Linked DNA regions of Homo sapiens: region 2 is linked to region 1. Evidence: fine-mapped expression QTL. A gene starts in region 1. The other region holds a variant in brackets. All regions are shown on one strand. Distances are between the middles of the regions. Region 1 holds the start of SYT1 (synaptotagmin 1). Region 2 overlaps SYT1 (synaptotagmin 1).

What was found.
Region 2: its variant is fine-mapped to the expression of SYT1 in monocytes after Pam3CSK4 (Quach 2016, PIP 0.95). The same link has a PIP of 0.9 or more in monocytes and monocytes after R848.

The regions. Positions count from the first base shown.
Region 1 is chr12:78,863,821-78,866,569 of GRCh38, forward strand. It overlaps SYT1 (synaptotagmin 1), which reads left to right and starts at 954. Exons shown (of 11, transcript NM_005639.3): 1 at 954-1,289.
Region 2 is chr12:78,976,316-78,979,344 of GRCh38, forward strand. SYT1 (synaptotagmin 1) reads left to right here. Exons shown (of 11, transcript NM_005639.3): 2 at 1,484-1,616. It overlaps LOC105369863 (a long non-coding RNA gene), which reads right to left. Exons shown (of 7, transcript XR_007063385.1): 5 at 278-354. Among named protein-coding and RNA genes, the nearest start is that of SYT1, 110 kb to the left of the region's middle. The variant C/T (reference allele first, on the strand shown) is at 1,365.

The DNA.
Region 1 (2,749 bases):
AAATGAAAAAATAAAAAAGCATCTCCAACAATGTTGCACTTGACCCAAGTGTACAAACTTATTGGTCGCTGCAATGGAAACTCCCAGTGCACTCTCCACGGCCTGGCAGCCGCCGCTGATGGGTGGAGTCGCGCTCCCGGCCCCACCTATGGGACGGAGCTGCTTCTCCCGCATCTCGGCTCCACCGCACCCTTCGCGGGAAGTCCCCAGGCTTCCAGCAAAGCTCAGCTTATCCCGCCCCCGCTTCCAACCCGGAACCCCAGAAGAACAGCATGATGAGCCTCCGGCAGCCAGGTGGGCCACCTCCCCGCGGCTCAGTTTGAGGACACTTGTGCGGAACCCTTTCACATCCCCACCCTACCCAGCTTTCACAACTCCGCCGGGTTAAATGGCCAAAGACAAACTTCTACCTCTCCTGTCCCCGGTCCCAGCTTTTCAAAAACCCACAGCTGGCGAACCCACACACATCGAAACTCCTAGGTCGCTGTTGCAGTCTGGGCATGCTCAGTATCAGGGTAGGTTTTGATTGAGAGTAAAAAAAAAAAAAAAAAAGCTTTGTATTATGCTCTCTTTCTCCTGTGCATACTGCTTGCTGAACAGCTTGTGGGGCATTCCTGAGTCTACCTAGAGGTTTTATCAGACGCCCTTGATTGTGTCTCCTTGGGATCTGTTCCCCTCTTACTTCACCCCCTCCCCCAACCCGCCTCCACCCCGCTTCCCAGGTCCCTGTCCGCTGTGGGGATGGAGAGACACTAACAGAACTGGGATGGGCGATGTTGGCTGAACGGATCCACCTATTATTAGTGCGCGGGGATTGGCTCCTTGGCGCAGCGTACCCGAGGTGGAGCCAATCAGGATGCTGGGGCTCGGAGATGATGGGCGGCCGCCTCCTCACTGGAGGGATTCCTGGAGAAGCTGCAGTGTGGGGATGCTCTAGACCGAGTACTGCCCCCAGTGTCTTTCCACCTCCTCCTGCAGCAGCGGCAGCGGCAGCAGCAGTTAGCAGCGGCAACTTGAGGCTGCACCCCGGGCAAGTCCCCAGGGTGGTGCTCAGCCGAGAGGGGGGCTTGGCGCCCCGAAGGGGTGTGTGTAGGGTGGGGGCGACCACGTGGGACCAGCTGGTGGCCCTGGAAAACCTCCCACACACCCACACCCACACACCCCTTTTGTGTTGCAGGCTGCCCCTCCAAGAGCGGAGGCAGCGAGAGTACGCGTGTGCCTCGCGCCGGTCCACGCGGGGAGAGCACTGGGGACCGAGACCCGGCACCACCTCCCGGTCCGCCCTCCAGGTAAGGAAGCGGGACTGGCGGCGCGGCCACCTCGGCGGTGCCTATCTGCTCGAATCCATCCCAAAGATTTTCTTCTCGATACACTTGGGTTTTAGTGGTGGGAGTCTGAGACCTAGGGAGGGATCCCCGGGTGGCCTATTGTGAGAAATATGAGACTACATGTGCATCTCCTGGAAAAGCACTTTGCACAGCGCCCGTGATTTAGAGCCTGGAGTTGATGTTGGGCATCCCCCATCTTCTTGCTTCCTCTTTCCTTCTCTTGTTCTCTCTCCTCCGTCCCCCACCCCCAATCTCAATCTTTTCTCTCTTTCTCTCCCACACCTCCCCTCTCGCCCTCCTCCCACCCTAAGCACGCACAGCGTTTCTTTCTCCTCCTGGAGAGGATTGCCTTTCTTAGAGGAAAGAGGGGGAGTGAAGAAAGGAGAAAGATTTCTTTCTGTTGGGGAGAGGGATATGGGGGGGGGGGGGAACGTAAACAAGATAGAATACAAGCTCTGCGAAAATCAGAGCACATAAAGCAATTAAACTGAATAAGGGGAGTAGACAACCAGTCCAGCTTGGGCTGTCAGAGAGAGGAAGCGTCAAGTTTGACTTGATTTCCTCCTTGCAAGAGTCTATGTCTCTCACTTGATTCGTTCAAATGGAACAAAAATAAACCGACAATCCAACCCACTTTCAACTGCTTAATTGCTTTTGCTTTTGAGTGCCAACCATCTGACTTTTCCTGTTTCCATCTGTCCTGTGGGGCTAACAATTTGGTATTGCACATCAGTGTTAATATCTGAACTTTGAAAGCTTTCTTGAGTAACAAAAAAAAAAAAACAATTAAAATAGATTATTACTTTCCTGAGGTTTCTTGGTATGGCCTGTTGTTGGGGGATCAAAAAATGTAAAGTTTCAAAACATTTGCAAGGGACAACAATTTTATAGGGAGGCTTGGATTTCTACTTTGAGAAAGCTAATCTTCTAGTTAGCTTTGTGTACATGTTGATATTCACTTTCTCCAGTATTAACCCTTTCGTGAAATAAAGCAACTGTTTAACTTTTGTATGGAAGCTACATTTGTGTAGAATTTTCACTTTATTCTACCTTTGTACTATTTGCATTTTATTGTCTGGATACCAAACTTATGCCTGGCTTTATTTTCTTTTAATAGGACAATATTTAATGGATGTAAACATGATGTTTATACAATTTCAGCACTCCCTTTAGAAGGCACATGGAGGCTCAGTTGGACAAGAATCCTCCTGTACTGGAACTAAGTTTAGAAAGTAATGCTAGAAAGATACCCTAAATTTTAAAAATCCTGAAGGGGAAAACATTTTTGTAACGTCTTGTTAAAAGAAAGAAAAATATATCAAAACACCAACATGCCCCTGGCTGCCTGCATAATAGGTCAAGTAAATGGTACTTGTTGGACAGAGCCTTTACAGCAGCTTCAGCAGTCTCTAATTCCATCA
Region 2 (3,029 bases), 110 kb after region 1:
GAGCTGGAGTCAACTATTTCTTGTCTGTATCAGCCAGGCAAAATGTTGCTCAGAAGCCATTCAGGGAATAAAACTCTCTTGTGAAGAATCTGTTCCTTTAAACTAAGGACTTACGTTTTCCCAAACCCTGTAAATTCCCATGTTTTTCTATATGGATTTATGCCAGAATCATTCCAATCCACTGGTTGGCGAAGAGAATGGTTTAATAACTGCAGGGGAAATGTAAAATTCTATTCAGAATATAATGAAAGCTGTATGGTATTATGTATTCATTTACCTTGTAGTAGGAAAACTCAAATCTTCAAATAACAGAGTGTTGCCATGTCAGCTTCCTCTGGAGAGTTGAAAACTAAACTGTAAAGACAGTAGAACGATGTGATTTGTATTGGAGTCACTGGAATCGACAAAACCTAAATTTTTTTTATAATTTATTTATTTCAATTAACAAATGACAAATTTTATAAACTAGTGGTATACAATATGATTTTAATGTATGCTCTACTATGCAAAGCCTCAATTCTTAATTGGTCTACAGGATTCAGCTGATAACGTGAATTCTGTCTACCTGCGTTTTTATATTTGTGAAAGAATTATGCTACTTTATAACTCAGTTTTTTAGAGTTTCTATATTCTAAAATTATTACTTTCAACCATCAAATATAAGATAGTAGAAATATGGGGCAAAATTTTTTGCAGTTTTATATCAAAAAAGTAGATGAATGCAATAGGGAGTGCATTAAAGAGAACAGAAAAAAATTTTAAAAGAAAGAATGGGGAAAAAAGAAGAGAAAAAAATGTAAAAGAAAGGCGAAGGAAGGGAACCCGAAAGGGCAAAGAAAGTGAGGAAGGAAGGGAATATTGAAGTATTTGATAGAGCTTCCCTACCACCCAGATGCTTTAGTATGTGCAGTATTTCAAAGTTCTTCCTAGGTAAATAGCAATGTCTTTCCTTTTTATTAGCACTGCTGCAGCTGCTGTTGCTCACAAAGAGATTCACAAATCAAAATAGACTCAGTTAGCTTTTCAATAATTCTGAAAAGGTAGGAGAACATTGCCAGAAAAGGATAGCACTCCAGTATCCTAACATAGAGTCTTGTTAGCAAAACAAAGTGTGAATTGCTTAGATAATTCCCTGCTGTTGGTAATTCCACTGGGTGTCTTCTGTGGCAGCACAGGCTACTTCTCCTCTATAGACCAATGCCATTGAACAGAAGATGTCAGAATGATATGAAAAAGTTGCTCTTTTGAAATGTTTGTTCTTCTAGATTTTTTTAAAATGTCAGCATGATTCATACCTATTGGTTCTTAGCCTGGAGCACCCAGCACAACCAGGAATTGAGGAAGCTAGAGCAGGATGTGAATAA[C/T]GAATGGGCTGCATAAGCAGAAGTCTATACCCAGTCAATAAGCAGAAGTCTATACCCAGTCAGTGTGCAGAGTTGCAGGCTAGCATTTTCACAGATTCTATTATTCTCTCTCTCTCAAGGGAAAACGGGAAAACTAGCAAGAGCTAGCAAGAACTAGCAAGAGCTTGAACAAACGCCTGGACTCAGATTGGAAGACTGCTCATTTGTCTACTGCCTCATTCCTGGAAATTGCACTGGAACTGTCTGATTAAGGTATTTGGAAAAAACAAATTTTTGACACATTTTGTTGATGATCAACCTCCTTTATCCATCCATATCTTTTTATATGTGGCGGCGGGGCCGGCGGAGGGAAGGGTAGTATTTGTGCTGAAGATTGAAGAACTGTATCTCTTTAAAAATTCTTGTGATATTAAGGGGAAATTAGTGTTTGTCACATATTCTGAAATTATTACTATTATTAATGTTTTTGAAATGCTGTTTTCGTTGGTGGGGCACTGGCTCCTTGTATAACATGTTTGCTTTCTCCCACTGTCATTTTGTACTCTATCAAATCCAAAGTTGTCATGGTTCATTATCTGTAGATGATCTTGAGCAGTCTTGCATTCTAAAAGAATATGCCATGGCATCTGCCTCTGTGCTTTTGTGGCCTGCTGCACAGATGATATTTTAGCACGAGTATTGGGTGAGGGGTTAGAGGGGAGAGCAGAATTTGTCTCAGACTGATGTTTCCTTGTACCATGCTGTGTCTCATTCTTTCATATATGGCTAATTCAACAGTGAAGTACATATATCACACTGTGACTATTACATATGTTAGAGTACATAATTTGGGTTGTAAAGTATCTGTTTGTCTTAACTAATGAATTCCATCAAATTCAATTACCATTCTTCATTAACCAATCAAATTACTCCTTTGGTCTAAGTCATTTCTAACACACTTTTATTAGGCATACACACAATTCTATGAAGTAAACGTGAGGTGATTAGATTATCTCATGATCTTTATTTGGAGTCCCATGCTACAGAAGTTTGGATTTCTAAAGAATAGCCTTTCACATTACTTCCACTGTATACAGGAGAAATAGTGTTACAGTGTGAAGCTCTGTCTTTAAGACTCTGTTTTACTACTTCTATCTTAGACTTTCTTTTCCCTGAGGAAGTTTGCTACAGTGGATCGCCAATACAAAAATACATAGAAATACACCAACTATATATTCCTATAAAATTAACCTATTTATTAAGTAAATGTACCTATACGCTTATGCGATACTGGATCATAATATTTTTCACCTTTTAGGAATAAATTATTTCAGTACTAGAACTTTCTCCTATCTCTTGCAGTAAGATACCACAGTGTAGGATCACAGTTGTTATTGTTGAAACACTTTTTTCAAATTATCATTATTTCTTTACATGGATTTCTTTTTAAACAAAGTGGTTCTGGAAATGCATATACCCAGTATTGATAGTACTTCAGTTTTCTAGGAAATAATTGCCACAGTACTAATTTACATTGGATATTTTAATCATTTTACAATGAAGGGCAGGTGCCTAATGTCCTTGCAGTATGATTCTTACCATACAGATCTTAAAATATTTCCATTTTGTTCTCTTCTACATTAATGTCTTTTAGGAACATTTTCATCTTCTTTCCTACAACTATTT